Linked DNA regions of Homo sapiens. The protein of the gene in region 1 interacts with the protein of each later gene in a pairwise test. Each region holds a gene or a part of one and is shown on either strand. Other genes may lie near its edges. The genes, in order: FXN, SAMD3, CORO2A and DAPP1.

Region 1 (7,100 bases):
GCTGGGGGCTGGAATTTATCTGAAGAATGACTCATTTACATGTCTACTGGTTGACCCTGGCTGTTGGCTGAGGGGGCCTCAGCTCTCTCTACATTGTTTCTCTACTTTGGCTAGTTTGGATTTCCTCAAAACATGATGGCTGGTCCTCAGTGTCAGCATCCCAAAAAGAGAATGCCGGACACAGTGGCTCACACCTGTAACCTCAGCAATTTGGGAGGCTGAGGTGGGAGGTTGCTTGAGTTCAGGAGTTCAAGACCAGCCTGGGCAACATAGTGAGACTCTGTCTCTACCAAAAATTTTTAAAATTTTAAAAATCAGCCAGGTGTGGTTATGCACACCTATAGTCCCAGTTACTTAGGAGGCTGAGGCAGGAGGATCACTTGATTCCAGGAGGTCAAGGCTGCTGTGAGCTATGACCACACCACTGCATTTCAGCCTGGGTAACAGAATGAGACTCTGTTTCAAACAAACAAAAACCCAAAAAAAAAAAAAAGAGAGAGAGAGGGAGTTAGAAGGAAGATGCATCATTTTTATGACCTGGACTTGGAAGTCACCAAGCAGCACTTCTGCAGTACCCTGTTGGTTGGAATAGTTGTAGCCCAAACCCGAATTCGAAGGGAGGAGAATAGATAACATCCCTGGGTGACAGGAATGTCAAAGTCCCAAACAGCATATGACATGTGACAAATATTGGTGTGGCCTTCTTTGGAAGATCCAATCTTCCATACCAGGCAAAGGGATGGAAGACTAAGGAACAACATGAGGGATAGCCAGAGAGGGAAAAAGCATCACTTGTTCTAGGAACTACAAATAGCTTGAAGAAGCAAAGATGTCTAGATGCCTCCCAATATGCAGAGTGGGGTGTACAGAAGAGAGTGGTAAGGGCGCTGGGAGAGCTAAGGTGGGCAAGAGAGCTTCCTCTGTCATGCTAAGAAAGTTGGAATTTATCTTGATGGTGGTGAAAGCAGAGGGCTATGGTTAGATTCACATTTGAGATTTAGATTTTTAGATTTAAAATGATCACCCTGGTGACACTGGCTTAACTCACAATTTTGCCCAAGGCCTATGCTACCACAGTGCTTCTGAAACTTTAAAGCACATTAGAATCACCTGGAGGTCTTGTTAAACCATGGATTGCTGGGCCTTGAAACCCCAGAGATTCTGATTCAGTAGATCGAGAATAGGGCCTGAGAATTTGTATTTCTAACAAGTTTCCAGGTGATGCTGAGGCTGCTGGCCCAGCGACCACATTTGATAATCATAGCCCTCTGATAAATCCTATCAAAATATCCTAATGGCAGAGCAAGGGAATTCTGGTGATATCCTCCCCTACCCATAACCTGACAGCTATTAGGATCTGCCTACTTGAGGCTAAAAGCAACCAAGAGAGGAACAGCTACAGTGTACCACAGAGTCCCTCAACATCTTTGCCCACGCCACGGTGCCCCAGCTTCTTACCAAGTGTGCCTGATTCCTCTTGACTACCTCCAAGGAAGTGGAGAAAGACAAGTTCTTGCGAAGCCTTCGTCTTCTCTGATATGCTATTCTATGTCTATTTCTTTGGCCAAAAAGATGGGGCAATGATATCAACTTTGCAGGGAGCTGGAGCATTTGCTAGTGACCTTTCTATGCCAGAACTTGCTAAGCATGCTAGCTAATAATGATGTAGCACAGGGTGCGGTGGCTCACGCCTGTAATCTCAGCACTTTGGGCGGCCGAGGCGGGCGGATCACCTGAGGTCAGGAGTTCGAGACCAGCCTGGCCAACATGATGAAACCCCATCTCTACTAAAAATACAAAAATTAGCCAGGCGTGGTGGTGGGCACCTGCAATCCCAGCTACTCTGGAGGCTGAGACAGAATCTCTTGAACCCAGGAGGTGGAGATTGCAGTGAGCAGAGATGGCACCACTGCATTCCAGCCTGGGCAACAAAGCAAGACTCTGTCTCAAATAATAATAATAATAATAACTAATGATGCAGCTTTCTCTCTCTGAGTATATAATGCAGTTCTGATGATGTGAGGAAGGGCCTCACTGTTGGTGTGGCAGAGTCTGAGACCATGGCTGGCAATGAAAACACTACCCTTTGATGCCTATGGGCTCTCCCTTTATGGTTTCAAGGAGGGCTTCTCAATCTTGGCAGAATTTTGGACTGGATAGTTCTTTGTTGCACAGGTGGGGGGCTGTCCTGCACATCACAGGATGTTTCATCCCTGGCCTCTACCTACTAGATGCCAGTAGAACATACCCACCCCACAGCTGCCTGTTGTGACAATCAAAAGCATCTCCAGATACTTTGCAGGGGGAAAATGATTTCTCCAGGCCTGGCATATACATAACAGTATTTAAGCAGCTGCCTAGAATTAATTAAACACAGAAGGATGTCTCTCATCCAGAATGCCCTGGACCACCTCTTTGATAGGCAATCAGATCCCACCTCCTCCACCCTATTTTTGAAGGCCCTGTGCCAACACCACTTCTTCCATGAATACTTCCTTGATTCCCCCATCCCTAGCTCTATATAAATCTCCCACTCAACACTCACACCTGTTAGTTTACATTCCTCTTGACACTTGTCATTTAGCATCCTAAGTATGTAAACATGTCTCTCTTCACGATTCACAAAGTGGCTTTGGAAGAACTTTAGTACCTTCCCATCTTCTCTGCCATGGAAAGTGTACACAACTGACATTTTCTTTTTTTTTAAGACAGTATCTTGCTATGATGGCCGGGCTGGAATGCTGTGGCTATTCACAGGCACAATCATAGCTCACTGCAGCCTTGAGCTCCCAGGCTCAAGTGATCCTCCCGCCTCAGCCTCCTGAGTAGCTGAGATCACAGGCATGCACTACCACACTCGGCTCACATTTGACATCCTCTAAAGCATATATAAAATGTGAAGAAAACTTTCACAATTTGCATCCCTTTGTAATATGTAACAGAAATAAAATTCTCTTTTAAAATCTATCAACAATAGGCAAGGCACGGTGGCTCACGCCTGTCGTCTCAGCACTTTGTGAGGCCCAGGCGGGCAGATCGTTTGAGCCTAGAAGTTCAAGACCACCCTGGGCAACATAGCGAAACCCCCTTTCTACAAAAAATACAAAAACTAGCTGGGTGTGGTGGTGCACACCTGTAGTCCCAGCTACTTGGAAGGCTGAAATGGGAAGACTGCTTGAGCCCGGGAGGGAGAAGTTGCAGTAAGCCAGGACCACACCACTGCACTCCAGCCTGGGCAACAGAGTGAGACTCTGTCTCAAACAAACAAATAAATGAGGCGGGTGGATCACGAGGTCAGTAGATCGAGACCATCCTGGCTAACACGGTGAAACCCGTCTCTACTAAAAAAAAAAAAAAATACAAAAAATTAGCCAGGCATGGTGGCGGGCGCCTGTAGTCCCAGTTACTCGGGAGGCTGAGGCAGGAGAATGGCGTGAAACCGGGAGGCAGAGCTTGCAGTGAGCCGAGATCGCACCACTGCCCTCCAGCCTGGGCGACAGAGCGAGACTCCGTCTCAATCAATCAATCAATCAATAAAATCTATTAACAATATTTATTGTGCACTTAACAGGAACATGCCCTGTCCAAAAAAAACTTTACAGGGCTTAACTCATTTTATCCTTACCACAATCCTATGAAGTAGGAACTTTTATAAAACGCATTTTATAAACAAGGCACAGAGAGGTTAATTAACTTGCCCTCTGGTCACACAGCTAGGAAGTGGGCAGAGTACAGATTTACACAAGGCATCCGTCTCCTGGCCCCACATACCCAACTGCTGTAAACCCATACCGGCGGCCAAGCAGCCTCAATTTGTGCATGCACCCACTTCCCAGCAAGACAGCAGCTCCCAAGTTCCTCCTGTTTAGAATTTTAGAAGCGGCGGGCCACCAGGCTGCAGTCTCCCTTGGGTCAGGGGTCCTGGTTGCACTCCGTGCTTTGCACAAAGCAGGCTCTCCATTTTTGTTAAATGCACGAATAGTGCTAAGCTGGGAAGTTCTTCCTGAGGTCTAACCTCTAGCTGCTCCCCCACAGAAGAGTGCCTGCGGCCAGTGGCCACCAGGGGTCGCCGCAGCACCCAGCGCTGGAGGGCGGAGCGGGCGGCAGACCCGGAGCAGCATGTGGACTCTCGGGCGCCGCGCAGTAGCCGGCCTCCTGGCGTCACCCAGCCCAGCCCAGGCCCAGACCCTCACCCGGGTCCCGCGGCCGGCAGAGTTGGCCCCACTCTGCGGCCGCCGTGGCCTGCGCACCGACATCGATGCGACCTGCACGCCCCGCCGCGCAGTAAGTATCCGCGCCGGGAACAGCCGCGGGCCGCACGCCGCGGGCCGCACGCCGCACGCCTGCGCAGGGAGGCGCCGCGCACGCCGGGGTCGCTCCGGGTACGCGCGCTGGACTAGCTCACCCCGCTCCTTCTCAGGGCGGCCCGGCGGAAGCGGCCTTGCAACTCCCTTCTCTGGTTCTCCCGGTTGCATTTACACTGGCTTCTGCTTTCCGAAGGAAAAGGGGACATTTTGTCCTGCGGTGCGACTGCGGGTCAAGGCACGGGCGAAGGCAGGGCAGGCTGGTGGAGGGGACCGGTTCCGAGGGGTGTGCGGCTGTCTCCATGCTTGTCACTTCTCTGCGATAACTTGTTTCAGTAATATTAATAGATGGTATCTGCTAGTATATACATACACATAATGTGTGTGTCTGTGTGTATCTGTATATAGCGTGTGTGTTGTGTGTGTGTGTTTGCGCGCACGGGCGCGCGCACACCTAATATTTTCAAGGCTGGATTTTTTTGAACGAAATGCTTTCCTGGAACGAGGTGAAACTTTCAGAGCTGCAGAATAGCTAGAGCAGCAGGGGCCCTGGCTTTTGGAAACTGACCCGACCTTTATTCCAGATTCTGCCCCACTCCGCAGAGCTGTGTGACCTTGGGGGATTCCCCTAACCTCTCTGAGACGTGGCTTTGTTTTCTGTAGGGAGAAGATAAAGGTGACGCCCATTTTGCGGACCTGGTGTGAGGATTAAATGGGAATAACATAGATAAAGTCTTCAGAACTTCAAATTAGTTCCCCTTTCTTCCTTTGGGGGGTACAAAGAAATATCTGACCCAGTTACGCCACGGCTTGAAAGGAGGAAACCCAAAGAATGGCTGTGGGGATGAGGAAGATTCCTCAAGGGGAGGACATGGTATTTAATGAGGGTCTTGAAGATGCCAAGGAAGTGGTAGAGGGTGTTTCACGAGGAGGGAACCGTCTGGGCAAAGGCCAGGAAGGCGGAAGGGGATCCCTTCAGAGTGGCTGGTACGCCGCATGTATTAGGGGAGATGAAAGAGGCAGGCCACGTCCAAGCCATATTTGTGTTGCTCTCCGGAGTTTGTACTTTAGGCTTGAACTTCCCACACGTGTTATTTGGCCCACATTGTGTTTGAAGAAACTTTGGGATTGGTTGCCAGTGCTTAAAAGTTAGGACTTAGAAAATGGATTTCCTGGCAGGACGCGGTGGCTCATGCCCATAATCTCAGCACTTTGGGAGGCCTAGGAAGGTGGATCACCTGAGGTCCGGAGTTCAAGACTAACCTGGCCAACATGGTGAAACCCAGTATCTACTAAAAAATACAAAAAAAAAAAAAAAAGAAGAAGAAGAAGAAGAAAATAAAGAAAAGTTAGCCGGGCGTGGTGTCGCGCGCCTGTAATCCCAGCTACTCCAGAGGCTGCGGCAGGAGAATCGCTTGAGCCCGGGAGGCAGAGGTTGCATTAAGCCAAGATCGCCCAATGCACTCCGGCCTGGGCGACAGAGCAAGACTCCGTCTCAAAAAATAATAATAATAAATAAAAATAAAAAATAAAATGGATTTCCCAGCATCTCTGGAAAAATAGGCAAGTGTGGCCATGATGGTCCTTAGATCTCCTCTAGGAAAGCAGACATTTATTACTTGGCTTCTGTGCACTATCTGAGCTGCCACGTATTGGGCTTCCACCCCTGCCTGTGTGGACAGCATGGGTTGTCAGCAGAGTTGTGTTTTGTTTTGTTTTTTTGAGACAGAGTTTCCCTCTTGTTGCCCAGGCTGGAGTGCAGTGGCTCAGTCTCAGCTCACTGCAACCTCTGCCTCCTGGGTTCAAGTGATTCTCCTGCCTCAGCCTCCCGAGTAGCTGGGATTATCGGCTAATTTTGTATTTTTAGTAGAGACAGATTTCTCCATGTTGGTCAGGCTGGTCTCGAACTCCCAACCTCAGGTGATCCGCCCACCTCGCCCTCCCAAAGTGCTGGAATTACAGGCGTGAGCCACCGCGTCTGGCCATCAGCAGAGTTTTTAATTTAGGAGAATGACAAGAGGTGGTACAGTTTTTTAGATGGTACCTGGTGGCTGTTAAGGGCTATTGACTGACAAACACACCCAACTTGGCGCTGCCGCCCAGGAGGTGGACACTGGGTTTCTGGATAGATGGTTAGCAACCTCTGTCACCAGCTGGGCCTCTTTTTTTCTATACTGAATTAATCACATTTGTTTAACCTGTCTGTTCCATAGTTCCCTTGCACATCTTGGGTATTTGAGGAGTTGGGTGGGTGGCAGTGGCAACTGGGGCCACCATCCTGTTTAATTATTTTAAAGCCCTGACTGTCCTGGATTGACCCTAAGCTCCCCCTGGTCTCCAAAATTCATCAGAAACTGAGTTCACTTGAAGGCCTCTTCCCCACCCTTTTCTCCACCCCTTGCATCTACTTCTAAAGCAGCTGTTCAACAGAAACAGAATGGGAGCCACACACATAATTCTACATTTTCTAGTTAAAAAGAAAAAAAAATCATTTTCAACAATATATTTATTCAACCTAGTACATACAAAATATTATCATTCCAACATGTAATCAGTATTTTAAAAATCAGTAATGAGACCAGGCACGGTGGCTCACGACTGTAATCCCAGGACTTTGGGAGGCCGAGGCGAGTGGATCATCTGAGATCAGGAGTTCAAGACCAGCCTGGCCAACATGGTGAAACCCCATCTCTACTAAAAACTAGCTCAGCATGGTGGTGGGTGCCTGTAGTCCCAGCTACTCGGGAGGCTGAGGCATGAGAATCACTTGAGCCCAGGAGGCAGAGGTTGCAGTGA
Region 2 (6,167 bases), on another chromosome or scaffold:
CCAAAAAGTACTTATGCAGCCATTGTTAAGAGCAGAACAGATAGAACTGGACTCTGGGCAGTAGCCAGTTGGGCATGCAGGATGAGTCACTGTGTTTCCAAGGCGAGAAGCAGTAGCAGATGAACACAGGTCACAGACATCAGGACCTGTACCAGCAAGATCAGCCAGCAATGAGGAGACCTCAAAAATGCCGCAGCCCTTATTCTCAACAAGCGATTAAAGACAACCAGATCTCCTGGGGCAAGGCAGATCCCCTGAGGGAGAGAAGAGTATGTGTCCCTTCTTGAAATGTTCAATGCAAGTTCAAAATGTTCCCAAGTGATGTTCAGACCAAAGAGACAGCCCACAGGCCATAAATGTGCAGCTCCTGTGCATTAAGTGGGCATGCTGAATTCAGTCCAAGGCCATTCTCTAACCTGAAGGATTTGAGTACAGTGTATTTCAAAAAAACTGAGGCACCTCTGAAAATATAACTTAACTGCGGAATTTCTAAAAACTCAAAATAAATCGACAGCTCTTTAATGAAGTAGAATTTTATTACAGAATTTCACAAAGAACTTAATATCTAAGTGTAAAGATAGAAAGCATTGAAATTCATTAGCATCTATAAATACAAGATGATTTTCTCATACCTACCTCTACCACAACCCTAAATCAAAACAATTTCTTATGAAGCTTCAGTTTTCCCAGAGGTAAATTCCAGTACAATATTTGGCATGCTATTAAGTGAGTGGGTGCTGAAATCCTACTTCGTTTTCCTTTTCTTTCAAAGAAGGAAAATAAGGACTGTGCATATCGAAAATCAGCGTTTCTAGGAAGTTGAAAGTTTGGGACAGTCTTCTTGGACACTCAATCCTAAATACATGAAAGGCAGCTACTAGCGCAGCCAAGGCTGTAACACAGTCGTCCACCTTTGTGAGCCTCTCCCTTTCTAAATATAAAGAAAATTCGCAGACCTCCATGTTGAAAGGGTTTTTAACTTCCAACACAGGTGTGGACACTTGCACCTGAAAAAAAGAGTGGAGTCATTACCATGATACGTAAAATAGCTAAATAATAAAACATCTGAACTTAATCATGGTATTACAATAAATCAGCTTGTTGCAATGTAGCATATTTGTAAATATGACAAACATACTTCAAAATAGACCACCAACTTTGCTTTTAAATAAGTTATCGCGGTTGGGCTCAGTAGCTCATGCCTGTAATCCCAGCACTTTGGGAGGCCAAGGCAGGTGGATCACCTGAGGTCAGGAGTTCCAGACCAGCCTGACCAACACCGTGAAACCCCGTCTCTACTAAAATACAAAAATTAGCTGGGCGTGGTGGTGCATGCCTATAATCCCAGCTACTTGGGAGGCTGAGGCACGAGAATCGCTTGAACCAGGAGGTGGAGGCTGCAGTGAGCCAAGATCACGCCATTGTACTCCAGCCTGGGCAAAAGAGTGAGACTCCATCTCAAAAATATAAGTAAATAAATAATATAAATAATCGCATGAAGATGTAAAATGTCAAACTAGTGGCCATTCACATACTACATACCTGTTCATTCATGATGACAAAAAGGCTGGGATCATCCCCAAAAACATCTGGGAGGAGTAAACATGTGGCTGTCATCTTCATGTCTGTCAAAGCAAATATGTTAACATGTGAAGTAAAAATAAGCTTTTAGCAATTGTAAGCTAAGCTAGTATTGAAACATCTGGATTTTTTGTTACCTTGGACAGAAAACAAACTAGCCTTCTTAGATCAATGTTTCACACCTTTTTAAACCATACCCTCTTCTAATAAAACATTCAAAATCTCGTATCTGCCCTCCAGAGCACTTCCAGAAGACAAGAGTTCTGTACTGTCTGTCCATCAGCCAGGAAGAATTTATGCTGCCCCTTGTGATTTGTATTGTAAAATTAACTGGTTACTAGTTCCCTAAATATAATTTTACAATATCCAGTATACTTTTAAAATCTATACCTCTCCTCCTCCTCTAATTGGAAAAATTCTTTTTTTTCCCCACCAGTTGTTTCACTTATTACTTAAATATTGAAAATTATTATTAAATATATTTTAGTAATGTAAATTTTTAATTTTTAAATATATTTTTAAAACTCAATAAATGTAAACTACTGAATTTTACTGACTACCAAAGCATAACTTTTCTAGATATTCTGATAAATAACAGATGAAATCACACCACTCCATAAGGTTTACTAACATTTCAACATGTCTTCATCTGTGTAATGTTTCATTTTTTCTTGCAATACAATATTGATTGGATTGTCCACCACTGAAAAAGAAGTCAGTATATTTTCTGAATAGGATTCCAAAATGTGCCTTGTTTTCTTATAAATATCTGTTCTTGTAAGAAGTTGGAATTCTCTGAACATCTGACAAAAGAAGAAAGCAATGGATACATCAGATCACAAGAAAAGCTAATATATAGAATGTAAAGACATAAAACCTTTAGAATTAAGCTTTGAATGCTGGTTTACACTAAGTACTCAATATTTTAGAAGTTTTAGTGGAGAATTAAAGCCTTAGGATGAGGGAGGAGAAAAGAATGAAAGCCTGAAATGAATTTGAAATGATAAATAATGGGCATGGCAAATTTCTAAACCTACAGAACTAAAACTTTGGATGCAGACTCAACTAAATGAGGATTCAAAGGGTGTATGCATATGCAGGCTATTTGGGTTACCCAGCTAAGGTTCTAAGATCTTACATTTCTTTAGGTGACTACATTGTTATGTCTTGTTCAACAAGCAGCAAAGAACAAAACTGTTAGATTTTAGGAAGCAAGCCCTGACAAATACTTAACCATAGTATCCTAAATTTAGGTAAAGGAGAGTGCTTTAGAAACTAAGAGTAGACAGAGGTAAACAGTGAAAAACGATATATGGCTGGGCACGGTGGCTCATGATTATAATCCCAGCATTTTGGGAGGCCAGGGCAGGAGGATCACTTGAGCCCAGGAGTTTGAGACCAGCCTGGGCAACACAGAAAAACCCTGTCTCTACAAAACACAAAAATTAGCTGGGCATGGCAACATACGTGTATAGTCTCAGCTACTCAGGAGGCTGAGGTGGGAAGATTGCCTTAGCCCGGGGAGATCGAGACTGCAGTGAACCGAGACTGTGCCACTGCACTCCAGCCTGGGCAACGTAGTGAGACCCTGTCTCAAAAGAAAAGAAAGAAAAAGAAACAATGTATGTGCAGATTTGACTACAAGTTCAAAGCAAAACCAGTTTACTTTATGGAAGTCCCTTTCCTCAAACTACCCCATCCTACCACTGCCTGAACTCTTCCCCCTCAGAGGATTCCACCACCACTCCCCCTCCTGTTTTTGACAGTGGCATTATCAGATTATTAGCCACCCACACTCCAGTGAATTAATTTAGTCATTGCTTTTCCTAAAACTATAAAGAACAATCACATACTACCCACTGGGCCTCATTGTTCCTTGAATGTTTTGGTAGATCATAAATTGCCTAGAGATTAGGTCTGAAAGTTAAGTTGTCAGAAAGCTGGAATGCATAAGGCATAGTGGCTTTGTTACCAGGCAACCCACAGTGGACCACTAATCTAGATTAATACCGTTAGAAAACCGTTTTCTCAGCAGGAAGATGTGAAGGGAAGGATGAAGGAGGTGAATACGCCACTGTTCTGGGCTCATAGCCTAAGAATTTCTTTTCTGACTTTTTATGTTTTGAAATAATTTCAAGTTTGCATTAAAGTTGCAGAAATAGTAAACAGAACTTACAAGTGCCCTCTGTGCAGCTTCCCCCAATTTCTGATCCAGTTGAAAATGAGCTGTAGATACAATGCCCCACTATTCCTTAATACCTCATTGTGTATTTCCTAAGTACAAGAGCACCCAAATTCAGGAAAATCTACTACACATTCCATTCAAATTTGCCAGTTGTTCCAGTCATATTCTTAACAGGCCCAGGATCTAATCCAGGATCCCATATGAGATTTAGATACCACGCCTCTCTAGTCTCCAGTCTGAAACAACTTGTTAGTTTCCTTGACGGTTTCTGAAAAGTGGAGGCCAGTTACTTTGTAGAACATTTCTCCTTGGAAGTTTTATGATATTTCAAGATTTATGCATTTCTGGCAAGAATATTAGCATTTCTCACTGTGTCCGGAAGCACAAAATGGTAACTGGTCCCAGTATTGGAGATAATTTTTATTACTTGATTAGAAATGGAATTCACCAGGTTTTTCCACGTAAAATTAATATATGTTGTATTTTATGAGGAGATACCTTGAGTTTATGTCAATATCTTGTTCCTTGTATAACTTTGATCCATCAGATTCCACATCCATTAATGATTCTTGCCTGAATCAAGTACTACTACAATAGTTGCCAAATGGTGACTTTTCTAATTCCTTTCTTTCTACATGGATTAGTTGGCTTTCTATTTTAAGATAGTTTCTTTTCTTCCACATATATTTACTTACTTATTTCTATCACTACAGGTTAATCAATTCCCATTTTACCCAAACGGTTACAAATCTGATCCTTTCATTATTTATAGAATTGCTCGAATTGCCCAGACTTGGCCAGTAGGAGTCGCTTCAAACAGACTGCCGTGCCCTCTTGGCATGTCCTTATTAGTGTGCAAGCACTTCCTTCATTTCTGGCATTACACAGTATTTCAGACTCGTCTTGACTCGTCTTGGTTTGTTGTTGTTGTTTTCATTTTTGTTTTGCCCCCAACCCTGTAGTGAGCTATTTCTCCACGAACCCTAATTCCTTTTCATGAAGAATGGCTTTAAAAACTAAGATTTCAGGCCAGGCACTGTGGCTCATGCCTATAATCCTAGCACTTTGGGAGGCCAGGGCAGAAGGATCATTTGAGCCCAGGAGTTTGAGACCAGCCTGAGCAACATGGCGAAATCTGTCTCTACAAAAAATACAAAAATTTGCCAGGTATGGTGGCACATGCCTGTAGTCCCAGATACTCAGGAGGCTGAGGTAGAAGGATCACCTGAGCCCTGGGAGGCCAAGGCTGCAGTGAGCCATGATCATGACACTCCAGCCTGGACAACAGAGAGACTTTCTCAAAAAAAACCCAACCAAAAAAAACCAAGATTTCAGCCCTGGTGTGCAACTTGCTACGGAGATGTTATTGCTTTAGACTTTCTCATAGAAGAAATCTAGGAAATGTTTGAATTTACATAAACAAAGGCACCCGTTGATCCAGAAACACCAATAACTATATATGTAAATATTAAATAGCCATACATAAAGACTAAAACCATGAATTCACATTGATACTTTCAATTCCAAACCAATACCACAGGGCTTTTCCTAACCTTCCCCTTCCCAAGCTTCTAACTCTCTTCAACAGTGAGATTCCTGGCTCCCATTATATCTCAGTGTATTTACTTATGAGCACTAACATCTGTGTAGCCAAGCTCCCAGCTGTGAATGGTCAGCCACAGGAAAGCCTCCAACACTTATACACTGCTAGTGGGAATGTAAATTAGTTCAGCCACTGTGGAAAGCCGTTTGGAGATTTCTCAAAGAACTTAAAACAGAGCTACCATTTGACCCAACAATCCCATTACTGGGTATATACCCAAAGGAATATAAAGAAAGACGCATGCACACATATATTCATTGCAGCACTATTCACAATAGCAATAACATGGAATCCACCTAGATGCCCATCAATAGCAGACTGGATAAAGAAAATGTACATGTACACCATGGAATACTACATAGCCATAAAAAAGAATGAAATCATGTCCTTTGCAGCAACATAGGTGTAGCTGGAGGCCATTGTTCTAAGCAAATTAATGCAGGACTAGAAAACCAGATACTGCATGTTCTTTCTTATAAGTGGGAGCTAACCACTGAGTACACATGGACACAAAGAAGGGAACAATAGACCCCGGAGTCCACTTGAGATTAGAGGGTGGGTGGAAGGTGAGGATCGAAAAACTACCTATCGGGTATTATGCCCGCTACCTGGGTGATGAAATAACCTGTACACCAAACCCCCACGACATGCAATCTACTTATATAACAAACCTGCACGACGTATCCCCTGCTGAACCTAAAAGTTGGAACAAAAAGAAAGCCCCCCTTTTCACAACCCCAGATTATGTCCTACAAATTAATCATCTTAATCCTTTTTCTTTCTGTTACTCAGACTGGA
Region 3 (7,030 bases), about 29 Mb from region 1:
AGTGCCCCCTGAAGTTGGGTATAGAACAACCAGCACAAATACACGCAGCAGCTCTGCAGACACCCCATACAAACAGATGAGAAAGCGCTGTGGATCGGAAGAGCGAGGGCCCAGGTTCCCTCAGTGCTCCCCACAACAATTTTAGTTATTTATTTTTGAGACAGGATTGCCCAGGCTGCAGTACAGTGGCATGATCATGGCTCACTGTAGCATCAACCTCCTGGGCTCAAGTGATCCTCCCACCTCAGCCTCCTGAGTAGCTGGGACTACTTGACGCATTTTCCCACACCTGGCTAATTTTTTCTATTTTTTTGTAGAGATGGGGTCTCACTATGTTGGCTGGTCTCAAATCCTTGGGCTCAAGTGATCCTCCCACCTCAGCCTCTCAAACTGTTGGGATTACAGGTGTGAGCCACCATGTCCGGCCCCCCACCTCCCTTTTATCCAACACAGAGGGTCCCGAGGTGTCTCTGTAAACCCCTATAGTGTCAAAAGGAAAGAACTGAAAGGCCATAGCTATGGTGCCACCAATTCCATTTGTGTACAGATTGGGAAACTGAGGCCTAGAGAAGTCAAGGCACTTTCCCAGGCTATAGTGCAGGTCAGAGACTGAGTCGGAATAGAATTGAGGTCTCCTGTACTGTGGGTCCCAATCTACAGGGCCTACTGCCTGCATGCTTGATTGTCAGTGGAGCAGGGTCGGGGGAACGATTTTCTGGGCAGTGCCATCCCATCCACTCCGGGCAGGCTATAATGAGTTGAACAGGGTTCCCCCCAAAACTCATGTCCACCTGGAACCTCAGAATGTGACCTTATTTGGAAATGGGGTCTTCGCTGCTGAAATTAGTTAAGATGAGATCATAATGGATTAGGTGGGCCCTAAATCCAATGATAGTTGCTCTCCTCTTCCTATAAGGAAGACAGGTACACAGAGAGAAGGCCGTGTGAAGACAGAAACAGAGCCTGGAGTGACGCAGCTATAGCCAAGGATGCCTGGAGCCACCAGAAGCTGGGAGAGGCATGGAAGGATTCTTCCCTAGGGCATCTGGAGGGAGCTGGCTCTCCCAACACCTTGATTTTCGATTTCTGGTCTCCAGAACTGTGACAGAATACATTTCCATTGTATTCCAGTTTGTGGGAACTTGTTGGGGCTGCCCCAGAGAAAGAATACCCAGACTCACCTTGTAGTCATAGCCAGCACTGAAGAGGATGTTGGCGGCCGTGGGGTGCCACTCCACCAGGCCTACTCTGCGCGCGTGGCCCACGAGTTCCTTCCTGTAGGCCGTGAGGTTCCTGGTCAGCAGCTGCTTGGGGATGCTCCAGATCTTAATCTGGCAGGGGAGACAGGGCCCAAGGCAGCATTAGCCAGGGCACCTTGGCACCGTCACCAGCCTAAGCCACAGATCTGGCAGTGACCAGCAGAAGGACCAAGGGAGCTCTCTCCATAGCCACCTCCCACTCAGTGGCTATGGGCATTGAGGGGCAGTGGAGGGGCAGCTGAGGGTCCTCAGACAGACAGGGGCTTCCCCAAGCTCCTCCAGCCTGAGCAGGGGCCAGCGCTGACCAGGGATGAGTCTAGGCCTCCAAATCTGCCCTTGAGAGATCTTTGTCATCCTGCTGGCCTGAGGTGGTGGGCAGGTGGCTGGGTTTCAGGCCTGTCTCCTAAGCTAGGATATCCCCAAAGTACAGTGTTCTTCTTGTCCCAAAGACCCAGGGTAGAGCCTCAAATGCCAGGATGAAGGGTTTAGGCTGCATCCTCAGGCACTAGGGAGCCGGCGAGGTCTCTGCAGCAGGGCAGGGACAAACTTCTTGCTTTGGAGGTGCACCCTGGATGGCCTGCAAGAGGAAACTCTGAAGGTCAGGAGGCTGGGCTGGATGGGGTCATGGGCCTGTATTTCATGGTGAGGGCCTGAGAAGAGGTGCTGGGACTTCCTTCCAGAGTAGTGTTGTCTGAAGATGGAGGGGGCTGCCATGGCAGAGAGTAAGCTCCCTGTCACAGAGGTATACAAATGGAGTACAAGGTGATCCTGGGATGCTGCTGACTTGATCTTCCTTATTGGTCCTGCAAGGTTCTCTGGCCCCTAGTTGATTGTATGCACTGTTTCCCTTAGAGGTATACAGGTTTTTCAGGTAGACGACTTTGCTTTCAATTCAGCAAATATTTATTTCCTGGTCATCTTGGATTTAAAACCAGGAAGCCAACCCCACGAGAGTAGTGACAGGCTCCAGATACTTCGGTCTGATGAGGGCTGTCACTGCATAGAACCCCGGGAGGAAGACACACTCTGAAGAGGTATGTTTGGAAGATGAAGGTACCACCCGCAACACTGAAGCAGAGAAGACTCCCCACTGCTAGAGGAGCAACCGTGCCCTCCAGGCCCTGAAGGCAGGGAGGAACACCCCATAAATTCACTGTGGGCATAGCTTCGGGGAGGAAAGCCCCTTCCTTCTTCAGTCCCCCAACAGTCACGTCCTGCCCTGGGGCATCGGGGAAGGGGCAGTGGCAGGCAATGAGGCTAGCAAGAGATTTATAAAGATCTTGATGGGAGCCTTCAAAGCAGTCCTGAAAAGGCAGGTATCACAAAAGTGGGGACAGTTTCAGATATTTGATATCCTGCCAGAGGCCCTATACTCCCTGGGGACAGGGCCAATTCTCACAGGACCTGATTGTCCCTTTGGTGAAATCACCTCGGCAGACACTGTCCTTTACGTTCCTCAGCATCTGCTATATGGAAACCGACACAAATCCTCTTTGAATTTTCTGCCTTCCTTTCCTGATGAACTGGTCTGCTTCTTTTGATCTAACTGAAGGTTTTGCAATACATTCTGTTGCCCATTTTGCCTTGGCTGCCAGGTAGCTCTTAGCTAAACTAGCAGCTTAGCTGCTGCAACCCTTCTTAGCCATCATTTCTAGTATTTCCTCAGTTTCTCCATCTGTGGCTGCTTCTCTTTAAAGATGTGTCACAGCACATTGGAAAGAGAATGGGCTGTGGAATCAGACAGGCCTCAGTCTGAAGTCTTGCTCTGCCTCCCACAGGCTGTGTAACATTAGGCAAATTGCTGTACCTCTCTGATCCTCAGCTTCTCCATCAGAAAAATATCCTACCTTGTGGGGTTGCTGGGGAGACTGTGAAATGATAAGTGTGATGACAGTTAGGAATACAGTGGGCTCACAATAAATGGTGACAATGACTTTTATCTTTATTTTAATCATCTGATCATATCTGTGTTTTTTAATTTTTTAATAGAGACAGGGTCTCACTATGTTGCCTAGGTTGGTCTCCAACTCCTGGCCTCAAGTGATTCTCCCACCTCAGTCTCCCAAAGTGCTGAGATTACAGGTGTGAGCCACTGAACCTGGCATATCTGTGGTTCTTGTCTTAAGCCATACCACCATATTTTAGAAGTGGGTACAAAATGAATTGTAAATAAGTAACACTGAACATTGTTGGGGCAGGGATGATAACCCTGGTACAGAACACGGGCTCAAAAAAGTGAGTGAGACTGAAGCTGCTGGAATGGTTTTAGTGTCCACATTCATCCAAGGCCCTCACAGCCTTTTATAGCTCGCTTCCTCACTATGGGATTAAGTGGAACATCTTTTCTGATCACCATAAAAATGCCCCTCATAGCCTTTTATAGCTCCCCGAAGGATGGGTTTTCCCATCGGAATATACATTTTCACTGGGCTTTATTAGCTGGGTGGAACTATTATGCCCATTTTATATGGGGGGGAACTAAGGCCCATAGAGAGGAGGGGTGGTGCCGCTAGTCCTACAGCACCAAGAATGTCTCCTCCTCTACCTTAACTTAACACCTCCCCACACAGTGACCTCACCTCCGCGATGGAGTCAGGGGCACCAGAGCCAAGAACAGGTACCATTCCACCCCAACCACCCCAATCCCACTCTTCAGGAAGGGGAAGCCCCTCAGGGGCTGACACTCACTGTGGCATCTTCAGAACAGGAGGCGATCTCAAAATCATCAAAAGGGTTCCACTTGACATCCAAAACGTTGCCTCTGTGCCCGCAGACTTTTGGGTAGTGGGGGTCCAACTTCCCTGTCTGCAAGACAGTGCCCAGGAGGGTTGGGGAGGAGGTGGATTCCACATTAGCATCTGGACAGTCACATAGTCAGTTAGCAACCAGTCAACAGGAAAACATAAGGGACAGAGCTGGGTGTGAATCTAGGCCTTACTTCTTATTCCCTGTGGGATCCTGGGGGAGTTACTTCACTTCTCTGAGCTCTGGTGTCCTCCTCAGTAAAAGGGAGCAATCACAGGTATTTCACAGGTTGGTGTGAGGATCATGGGAGAGGAGGTATGGCACAGTGCCTAGCACATGGCAGATGTTCAATAAAAGGGCATTTCCCCTCACACACTGCTGGTAGGCATGTAAAATGGTGCAGCTCTTTTGGAAAATAGTCTGGCAGTTCCTCAAAAGGTTAACCGGTTCCCACATGACCCAGCAATTCCACTCCTAGGTCTATCTCCATGGAAAATGAAAAGATAAGTCCGCAAGAAACTGTTTCACCTAATCCCAGCACTTTGGGAGGCCAAGGTGGGTGGATCACCTGAGGTCAGGAGTTCGAGACCAGCCTGGCCAACATGGTGAAACCCTGTCTCTACTAAAAATACAAAAATTAGCCGGGCGTGGTAGCATGCACCTGTAATCCCAGCTACTCAGGAGGCTGAGGTAGAACACTTGAACCTGGGAGGTGGAGGTTGCAGTGAGCTCTGATTGCGCCATTGCACTCCAGCCTGGGTGACAAGAGTGAAACTATGTCTCAAAAAAAAAAAAAAAGAAACTGGTTCACCAATGTTCACAACAATATTCTTCATAATATCAGAAAGTGGAAACAACCCAAATGCCCATCAAGTGAAGAATGGACATACAAAATGCAGTATATTCATGCAGCAGAATACTACTGTCCCTAAAAAGAGGAATGAAGTACTGGTCCCTGCTACAGCATGGATTAACCTAGAAAACACTAGAAGAAGAGGCCAGGCACAAAAGGCCACACGTTGTGTGATTCCACTTAGATGATGTTCCAGATGTGGTTTCATTGCCTGAGCACATTAATGCATCCCCCTGGTACCTGGTATCTGGAACCCTAAGTAATGCATATGAAAAATGCAGAACGGGCTGGGCGCGGTGGCTCACGACTGTAATCCCAGCACTTTGGGGGGCCGAGGCGGGTGGATCACGAGGTCAGGAGATCGAGACCATCCTGGCCAACATGGTGAAACCCTGTCTCTACTAAAATACAAAAAATTAGCCCGGCGTGGTGGTGCACGCCTGTAGTCCCAGCTACTCGGGAGGCTGAGGCAGTAGAATCGCTTGAACCCAGGAGGCAGAGGTTGCAGTGAGCCAAGATCATGCCACTGCACTACAGCCTGGCGACAGAGCAAGATTCTGTCTCAAAAAAAAAAAAAAAAAGAAAGAAAAATGCAGAACGATACATTCATGGAGACAGAAGGCAAGATTCTGGTTGCCTCAGGCTTGGGAGAAGGGGCAATAGGGGGTGACTGCTAATGAGTGAGGGGTGTCTTTTTGGAGTGACAAAATGATTTTGAAATTAGGTGGTGGTGACAGTTTATTCACAGTATATTCACAACCTTGTGAATATACTAAGATCCACTGAACTATACACCTTAAAACGGTGAATTTTCCAACATGGCAACAGGACAAAACCCCGTCTCTACAAAAAATCAAAAAATTAGGCCTGGCATGGTGGCTCACGGCTGTAATCCCAGCACTTTGGGAGGCCAAGATGGGTGGATCACCTGATGTCAGGAGTTTGAGACCAGCCTGGTCAATATGGTGAAACCCCACCTCTACTAAAAATACAAAATTAGCCGGGCGTGGTGGCACATGCCTGTAATCCAAGCTACTTGGGAGACTGAGGCAGGAGAATCACTCGAACCCAGGAGGTGGAGGTTGCGGTGAGCTGAGATTGTGCCACTGCGTTCCAGCCTGGGCAATAGAGTGAGACTCCGTCTCAAAAATAAATAAATAAATAAATAGCCAGGCATGGTGTCGCACACCTGTAGTTCCAGCTACTTGGGAGGCTGAGGTGGGAGGATTGCTTGAGCCTGGGAGGTCGAGGCTGCAGTCAGCTATGATTGTGCCACTGCACTCCAGCCTGGGCAACAGAATGGGACCCTGTCTCAAACAAAAAACAAAACACGGTGAATTTTCTGGTATGTGAATTCTACCTCAATTACATAGAAAGGGCATTTCCCTCATTTTCCCCTTTCCTAATGAGAATTCCTGTATAGGTGCTGGGAGGGACATACAGGTCCCCCAGCCCATGCCACACAGCCCTGAAGCTATTTCCAACTCCACCAAGAGACTTGGATTTCTTGGGGTCATAGAGAAACCACACCAGTTCAGTCACAGAACCTTGGACTGGCAGTGACCAATCTGCTCATTTTGCACATCACATTGCATGGCCCTGGCAGAACAGGGACCAGGACCCAGGCCCTCGACCTCCCACATCCACCATCTAGTTCCAGGTTCTTGAGCCACCCACCAGAATGCTCCCCCAGCCATTTTTATATCTAAGTGAAAGAGACAGCTGAGAAGAAAACTGGCCAACATCCATCCATCCCACAAATATTCCCGAGGTGCCCAGGGGACAGGTGCTGTTGGAGGGGCTGATTGCAAGGTGAACACTCAACATAGTCCTTGACTTTGCAGAATCAATAGTCTTGGGATTTTTTCTAGAGGGACTTTCAAGAACAGGGTGGACTCAGGGAACACCCAACCTTCTCTTCTTCCATCACCTCCCCATCTGTGTAGAGACCACTGTACTTGTTTTTTTTTTTTTTAAGAGACAGGGTCTCACTCTGTTGTCCAGGCTGGAGTGCAGTGGTGCAATCATGATTCACTGTAGCCTCGAACTCGGGGTAAGACAATCTTCCCACCTCACCCTCCCAAGTTCCAGGCTAAGAACTACAGGCATGTGTCACCAAGCTCAGCTAATTTTTAAAATTATTTGTAGAGATGGGGTCTTGCTATGTTGCCCA
Region 4 (7,030 bases), on another chromosome or scaffold:
AAAGCCCTGCATAGGTGTAGCCTGCAGTTAAAAGTCAATAAAACATAGTCCTCATAATGGAATGATTGAGGATGAAGATAGCAAGTTTACTCTAGAACATCTTTCGTTCTTCTTCTAAAACAAGGAAGAAGTCAAAATTGTATAAAATGTTTCTTTAAGGATAGGCCAAAAACATCACTGATGCTACTGAAACTATGTTATAAAATCCAAAGAAAAACACAATTTAAGCTCTTACAAGTTCAGAGTATCCAAATGTTCCCCATTTATGAGACTGTATCTTTAGAATTCCTTTGTTTCATCTCAATGTGCCAAGAAGACCTTCATGGAATGTGTCTGCTCCTTCTCGTTTTAAGAGTCACGGTATTTAACCTCTCACAGACACTGACATGCTTGGAATTAGCCTAAATAATTTCATTATTTGTGTCCCTTCTAGATCGAATGCTCCCTGAGGACAGAGAGTATTCATATTCATAGCATATTTATGTTTAAATCCTCTGTTACTTCTTTTAACTGGGCACATTGACACCCAGGATAGAGTAGGATGCTGTTTGTATATAAGAAGGTAACAGCGGGCAATGATGGTTTTTACCACTGATACCTTGGAGTTCTTAGGCAAGGTTTAGAATATCATGTGAGTCAGGGTTCCTAAACCTCAGTTTTGTTGTTTGTAAGACAAGAATAATAATACTGGCATTGTTGTGTGAGGATTGGATATAATATATAAAGCCTCCAATGATAGTATATCGTCCATATTAGGTACTCAAAGAACAATATTTATCTTTATTATAGAGTTAATAAAATGGAAATTGTAGTGGTTTGTTATAAGTCACATTGAATATTTATGATAGACTAATTCTTTTTGTATTTAAAAATATACTAATGATATATCTGCCTTCATTATGAGCTTAATGCATGAAATTAATTTTTATAGATATTTTGAAACTTTTTTCTCAGAAATGACACAAAAGAATTTTTTGAGCTTAATGCATGAAATTATTTTAATTTTTATAGATATTTTGAAACTTTTTTCTCAGAAATGACACAAAAGAATTTTTTCAGGGTTATAGTATTTAATTTTTTAGATACTTTTAAAATGAAAGTAAATCATCTGGTTCAAATATTACATTCCTGTATTCAAAACTTTGTGTGTCTGTGTGTTTGTGTGTGTGTGTGTTTTTCTCAGACCTGGAAAACAAGATGGTTTACTCTGCACAGGAATGAACTGAAATACTTCAAAGACCAGATGGTGAGAAACATGATAATATATTTTTCCTTTAAAAATCAATTCTCTAGATGAAAGAAACTTAGGTCTTTAAAATCTCTGAAATTATTTTTATATCCACCTGAAATACCTAATAAATGATTGGAGATATGAATTCTTGATTCCTGAAATGAGCAGAGTTATTTTGCAAAGATGAGATGTATGTCCCAGAAATTGCTTTCTTGGATTGGCTAAACCATAGTTCCCCAGGGCACGTAATTCCCTCTGTTTAGGACAATGTAATTATTCTCTTGCCACAATTTATTAACTGTCTCTTTGCAGCAATTTGTCCCTTTATTAAAAATACAGTTTCTCCATTTCCCATGCCCATTTCATTAAGCCAATTTAAAATTATTTTTTCTCACTTTTCTTATATAACATTTCTAAGAAAGTAGAAGTTTTAAAAAATGAGAGAAAAATATACCTCTCTTCCATGTGTTAAAATCCATCTTCATCAGTAAGTTGATAAAGGTAGTAACTTAATGCCCAGTTTTATGAAAGGCTCATTCCAAAACCAAGGACTTCCCTTGGTAGGGCTTTTCTATTGTCAGTCCTGTTAGTGAAAGGAAATATGACAATTGCACATAGTGGAAAACTTGTGAGGGGAATAAGTGAGGGACAGATTTGTCTGTTTTTTTTTTTTTTTTTAATGGTGACATACGTTGCTTTTTATTTTATTTAGTCACCAGAACCAATTCGGATCCTAGACCTAACAGAATGTTCAGCTGTACAATTCGATTATTCACAAGAAAGGGTAAACTGTTTTTGGTAAGTTGTTTTATAAAGAAAACGTTTTTTAATGTCTTCTTGCCAGACACTTATTTTGGCTAAGGAATAGAAAGCTGTATATCTTAATGTCTACAAAGATCAGATATGAGGGGCATGCCTGCATGTAAGGAGTGTTTTCAGCTGAGTGTGACATAACACCTCATTTAAAGTAGCTTAAACAAACAGGCAGGTCAGCTCAGCTTATGTTGCGTACTGGAGAAGTATGACTCACATAGAGGATGCCATTCACATCTTAGACAATTTAATTTCTTTGAGGCTTTCTCCCTCATTTTATTTATAACTTTGTTGACTCTAATGATAGGTGATTTGTATTGTTATGACAATTTCTGGCAAATGGCACAAAAATATTTTGTTCTAACATAATCAGTATGTTATAAAAATGTTCTAACTGGGAGAAGAGTCTTGAGAAAGGAATGTCTTATTTCCCACTACCTTTTATTTTAAAGTTTTTCAAGCATACACAAGTTGAAAGACATACGTTTACATACCCTCCATAGCAGTTATTAATATATCTTACCATATTTGCTTTATCCTAGTCTATCCACTTTTTTTTTTTCCTGAACCAATTGAAAGTAAGTTGCAGACATCATGGCACTTTATTCCTAAAGACTTTAGTATGTGTCTCTTAAGAATAAAATATCACATATAGGACTACAGTATCATTATTACAACTGAAGAAATTAATGTTAATTCTATAATATCAACTGAGAATGGGTGTCTTTTTAAAATTTGCATAGACATGCCCTGTGAGCTAGCAGAGCTTTATTTTTCTCATATATCCAAAAATCAGGAGGCAAGCAGCTATGGTGACAAGGTCAGGTCCAGGGTCTCTACTGTTCTCCTGGCCTTTTCTCATGCTGGCTACTTCAGGATTTGAGTGTCTACTACACCTGTAGGTCTCATATTTTCAACAAAGTACAAAGAAAGATGTAGGGATGATATTACCCGTGTCTGTCCCTTTTTATCAGGAAAACCAATGTTTCTCCAGAAACTCCCCTATGAGACCGGGTGCCATGGCCATCCCCAGCAGCTGATCATAATTGGCTTAAACAAATTAGGATTTATTGCTTGGGGTTCTGTTAGCAAAAGAAAGGGATAATTATCTGTATTAATAGACAGTTAATAATGTCTCCCATAGGGAGTACCAAACAATGACAATGACAGAAACCAGTTTTCGAGTATATGCACTGTATCACTCCCTCCCCACCACTGTCCACTCACTCTCCACTAGACCTCACATCCAGGTATTAGCTTCTATGCACAGAGACTTACCTCTTACCTATTCAACTTTAATTGCTGGTATCAACAAAATACACTGCTTAGGCTTTAAGATATAGAAACCCTTCTGAAGGCTTTTTCACAAAAAGAAAAAAGATTTTTGGTATTTTTGCATCTCAACTGTAAGTAAGGAAGTATGTTCAGTATGTAATTTAGGGCTGACCTTATTGCTTACATAATTTTAACTAGGTAATCAGACACAGTCAAATGAAAAATTACTATACATTTAGGAAAAGTATTTTGTGCCAGTAGGAAAGTTCTTATTCCCTGCAGCAGAGACTGACTCTTGGCCAGAGATGGGAGAAATAACTAATTTAGTTTTATTGTCTCTTTTTATTGTCCCAATAGTTGAAATTGCCCACAACCACAGAAGGCAGAGTTATCCTCGTTGAAGCAAGCTAACACAAATGAGTTCTTTTTAGCAAACTTCTCTGTCTTGCCTATTCTTTGGATCATAGCACAAGTTTTTGAGAGATCAGCTGAATGAATACATAAGTGTTAGAGTTAACCTAAGACATGAACCACAAAAGGATCTAGGGGTGTCCTGAACATGTTTCTTTCTTCTTCAAAGTCTTATTCGAGTATATACATCTGACTTGGAATAATAATATGAATCTACAACTTCCTTAACATTTCTGCAGTTTGCTGGCAGGAGTAGGTGCATATATACCAGCACTTCAAGGTACTTACCTGCATCCTTTATCAATTCTTTTTTCCCTTGCAATACTCTAATTAGTGTTCAACTAATATATATATATATATATATATATAATATATATAATATATTATATTATATATTATATTATATATATTATATATATATATATATATATAGCTAATGATCTGCAATATCTTATGTTCTTTCTTTTGTCCTATTAGTTTGGTATTTCCATTCAGGACATTTTATCTCTGTGCAAAGACCGGAGTAGAAGCTGATGAGTGGATCAAGATATTACGCTGGAAATTGGTGAGAATTTTTAAGCCTTCAGATGTCAAGTCTTGAGAAATAACATGTTGATGATTTCAAACATATTTCTATCAAAAGAGTCAGACTAGACCCAAGAATCAAAGAGATGTCTGGGTGTCTACTTCCAGGCTTGCGGAACAGTCTGTTAATTCTTCTGGGACATGAGAAGAGATGGAGACAGGATTGTAAAAAAGAAAGAATTAAGCCATATTTGGGTCTTAGACATAGAGCCTTAGCCTAATAACCACCTATCAGACTTCCTATAAGGTGTGTCAGTTAGTTCAGTTTTGTCTGGAGGGGGACATTTAGAACCAGAAGGTCTGACAGAGGAAAGCTGACATACTTCTCTAGTTGAAAAGCCTTTTAAATTGTTAGAGAAGAAAGTTTGCCAGAGGCACTTAGCTTAGTTTCCAATGTAAGCATCACTTTGTGCAGGTCAAGGACAAAAGCTGATTTATTTTGTCTGCTCTCTGTATATCTCCCGAGGAGAAGACTGAGTGAGTACTTATAAAACTTCACCAATCTTCTACTTGTTTTTCATGTGCTTGCAAGTTAGTGAGTTCTTAGCCAAGAACTTGTCCTTAAAGCTGACTAAAATTTCCTATAAATACCATCTTAAAAACTTTGATGATTTCTTTTTTTCTATTTTTTTTTTTTTTTTTTTTTGAGACAGAGTCTCGTTCTGTTGCCCAGGCTGGAGTGCAGTGGTGTGATCTTGGCTCAGTGCAACTTCTGCCTCTTGAGTTCAAGTGACTTTCATGTCTCAGCCTCCCGAATAGCTGGGATTATAGGAGCTTGCCACCACGCCTGGTTAATTTTTGTATTTTTAGTAGAGAAGGGGTTTCACCATTTTGGCCAGGGTGGTCTCGAACTTCTCACCTCAAGTGATCCACCAGCCTCAGCCTCCCAAAGTGCTGGGATGACAGGTGTGAAGCACCATGCCCGGCCAGATGATTTCAAACAAAATATTTTTCTTAATTATTTTTTGCAAAATTGTCTGATATATATGAAAATTCCTTTCTAGATACTGAGACTTTTGCTTTCAGTTATGTTTTCAGTTTGAAATTCAAATAAGTATACCATTCATTTTTAAATTCTTCCAATGTATCAGTGAGGGATAATTTGTCTTGTGAAACCTTTGCTCAGATATGGATTAATTTCTTATTCTTTCTATTTTTAATTATCAAAGTAACACAAAATCATTATACAAGAATTATAGAAAAATATATCAAGTATACACACTTTTAGACTTCTCTCTTTACACATAAATATTTAAAAACAAAATTTAATCACTTGCTAGAAGTAAAAACCACAATGATGTACCACTACACACCCTTCAGAACGGATACAATGAAGACTGTCAATATCAAGTATTAGCATGAATGCGAAGGAACTAGAACTCTCCTACATTGCTAGAGGGAATGAAAATGTGTACGGCTACTTTGAAAAATTGCTTGGCAGTTTCTTTTAAAACTATACATATACCTACACTATAATTCAGCATTTTCATGCTTAGGTATATCTAAGAGAAATGAGTGCATGTATCCACTAAAAAATGTTACAATAATGTTCATAGCATCTTTATTGATAATATACAAACTCCAAACAAAACAAATCACTTGCCAGTGTTCTATATTTGCTCACTTCACTTAGCAATATATTATGAACATTTTTCCATATTATCAATTTTAGATCTATATCTTCCTTTTAACTCATTGAATAGTATTGCATTTTATAGATTACTGTAAGTATTAGACCAATTCCCAATTTGTACATGTTTTAGCAATCACTTTACAATATGTGTCCTAAAAAAAAATACAGAAAATTTTTCTGGACACATGATAATTAGCTTATAGTTGGGGGTGAGCACATGATAATTAACTTAGAGTTGTATGACATCCTTACTAATCAACATGTCTTATTTAATATTTGTTAGAAGCCAGGGTTCATTACAATCACTCAATAATGGATACACGTGTGTGTACTTTATTACAGTCACAAATAAGAAAACAGCTCAACCAAGGGGAAGGCACGATCCGATCTCGGTCGTTCATCTTTAAATAGATCTTTCTTGCCAAGGAATGCTCTGGCCCAGGAGCAAGGTGGAATGTTTCCCTGACGCTGTGATCTGCAGCAGGCTTCAAATGAAAACCGACTAAGGATTTTCTTTCAAAAACAAATCAGAAGCAGATGCTGATTGGGACCCATATACCACGTTGCTGACTCACGTTGCTGCCCTTCCATGATGTTGCCATCTCCTTGAGAACACTGAAGCAATCACCATTCTGATAGAAAGTGCTTAAACCACCACTCTTAGGTCTGCTCACTCTTAGAACACACAATGGAAGAGGAAGGGTTTTTGTTTTCACTCATTGTGGTCCCCAAGCCTATTGACACTAGTTGCCTAGAGTCCCACTGTGAGTCATGGTCAGCCTGTCTGACATCCAGGTTGTGCTATTAACCAAGAAGGAAACAGATACTTGGAGGCTTAGATGACTTCTGCAGGATTTATATTCAGATAGAAAACATCAAATATTTTCAGGGGAGAGGTTTTTTTTTTTAATTTTTCCCCCTTTATACAAAAAAAAAAGAACATTTCCAAAACTAAAATAGAAAATGCTTGTGGCATTTATTTTCTCTTTTTAAAAGGTTCAGAAATTTGGCAGGTCCTTTGCTTCTAATGACAAAACTGTGAGAGCTAGATGTCCTATGGGCAATTAGGTAGTATAATAAAG

The links.
Region 2: the proteins of FXN (region 1) and SAMD3 interact in binary tests that used the Homo sapiens proteins (3 or more experiments, as listed by UniProt).
Region 3: the proteins of FXN (region 1) and CORO2A interact in binary tests that used the Homo sapiens proteins (3 or more experiments, as listed by UniProt).
Region 4: the proteins of FXN (region 1) and DAPP1 interact in binary tests that used the Homo sapiens proteins (3 or more experiments, as listed by UniProt).

The regions. Positions count from the first base shown.
Region 1 is NC_000009.12:69,031,664-69,038,763, forward strand, and holds the start of FXN (frataxin, mitochondrial isoform 1 preproprotein), read left to right. Parts: upstream 1-4,088; 5' UTR 4,089-4,119; coding exon 4,120-4,284; intron 4,285-7,100.
Region 2 is NC_000006.12:130,143,798-130,149,964, forward strand, and holds the end of SAMD3 (sterile alpha motif domain-containing protein 3), read right to left. Parts: intron 2,385-6,167; coding exon 2,213-2,384; intron 1,626-2,212; coding exon 1,543-1,625; intron 1,008-1,542; coding exon 723-1,007; 3' UTR 518-722; downstream 1-517.
Region 3 is NC_000009.12:98,133,625-98,140,654, forward strand, and holds part of CORO2A (coronin-2A), read right to left. Parts: intron 4,065-7,030; coding exon 3,948-4,064; intron 1,332-3,947; coding exon 1,182-1,331; intron 1-1,181.
Region 4 is NC_000004.12:99,861,827-99,868,856, forward strand, and holds part of DAPP1 (dual adapter for phosphotyrosine and 3-phosphotyrosine and 3-phosphoinositide), read left to right. Parts: intron 1-1,183; coding exon 1,184-1,246; intron 1,247-1,943; coding exon 1,944-2,029; intron 2,030-3,899; exon of another isoform or gene 3,900-3,969; coding exon of another isoform or gene 3,970-4,010; intron 4,011-4,207; coding exon 4,208-4,295; intron 4,296-4,730; coding exon of another isoform or gene 4,731-4,748; exon of another isoform or gene 4,749-4,792; intron 4,793-6,290; coding exon 6,291-6,359; 3' UTR 6,360-7,030. UniProt on the Homo sapiens protein: May act as a B-cell-associated adapter that regulates B-cell antigen receptor (BCR)-signaling downstream of PI3K.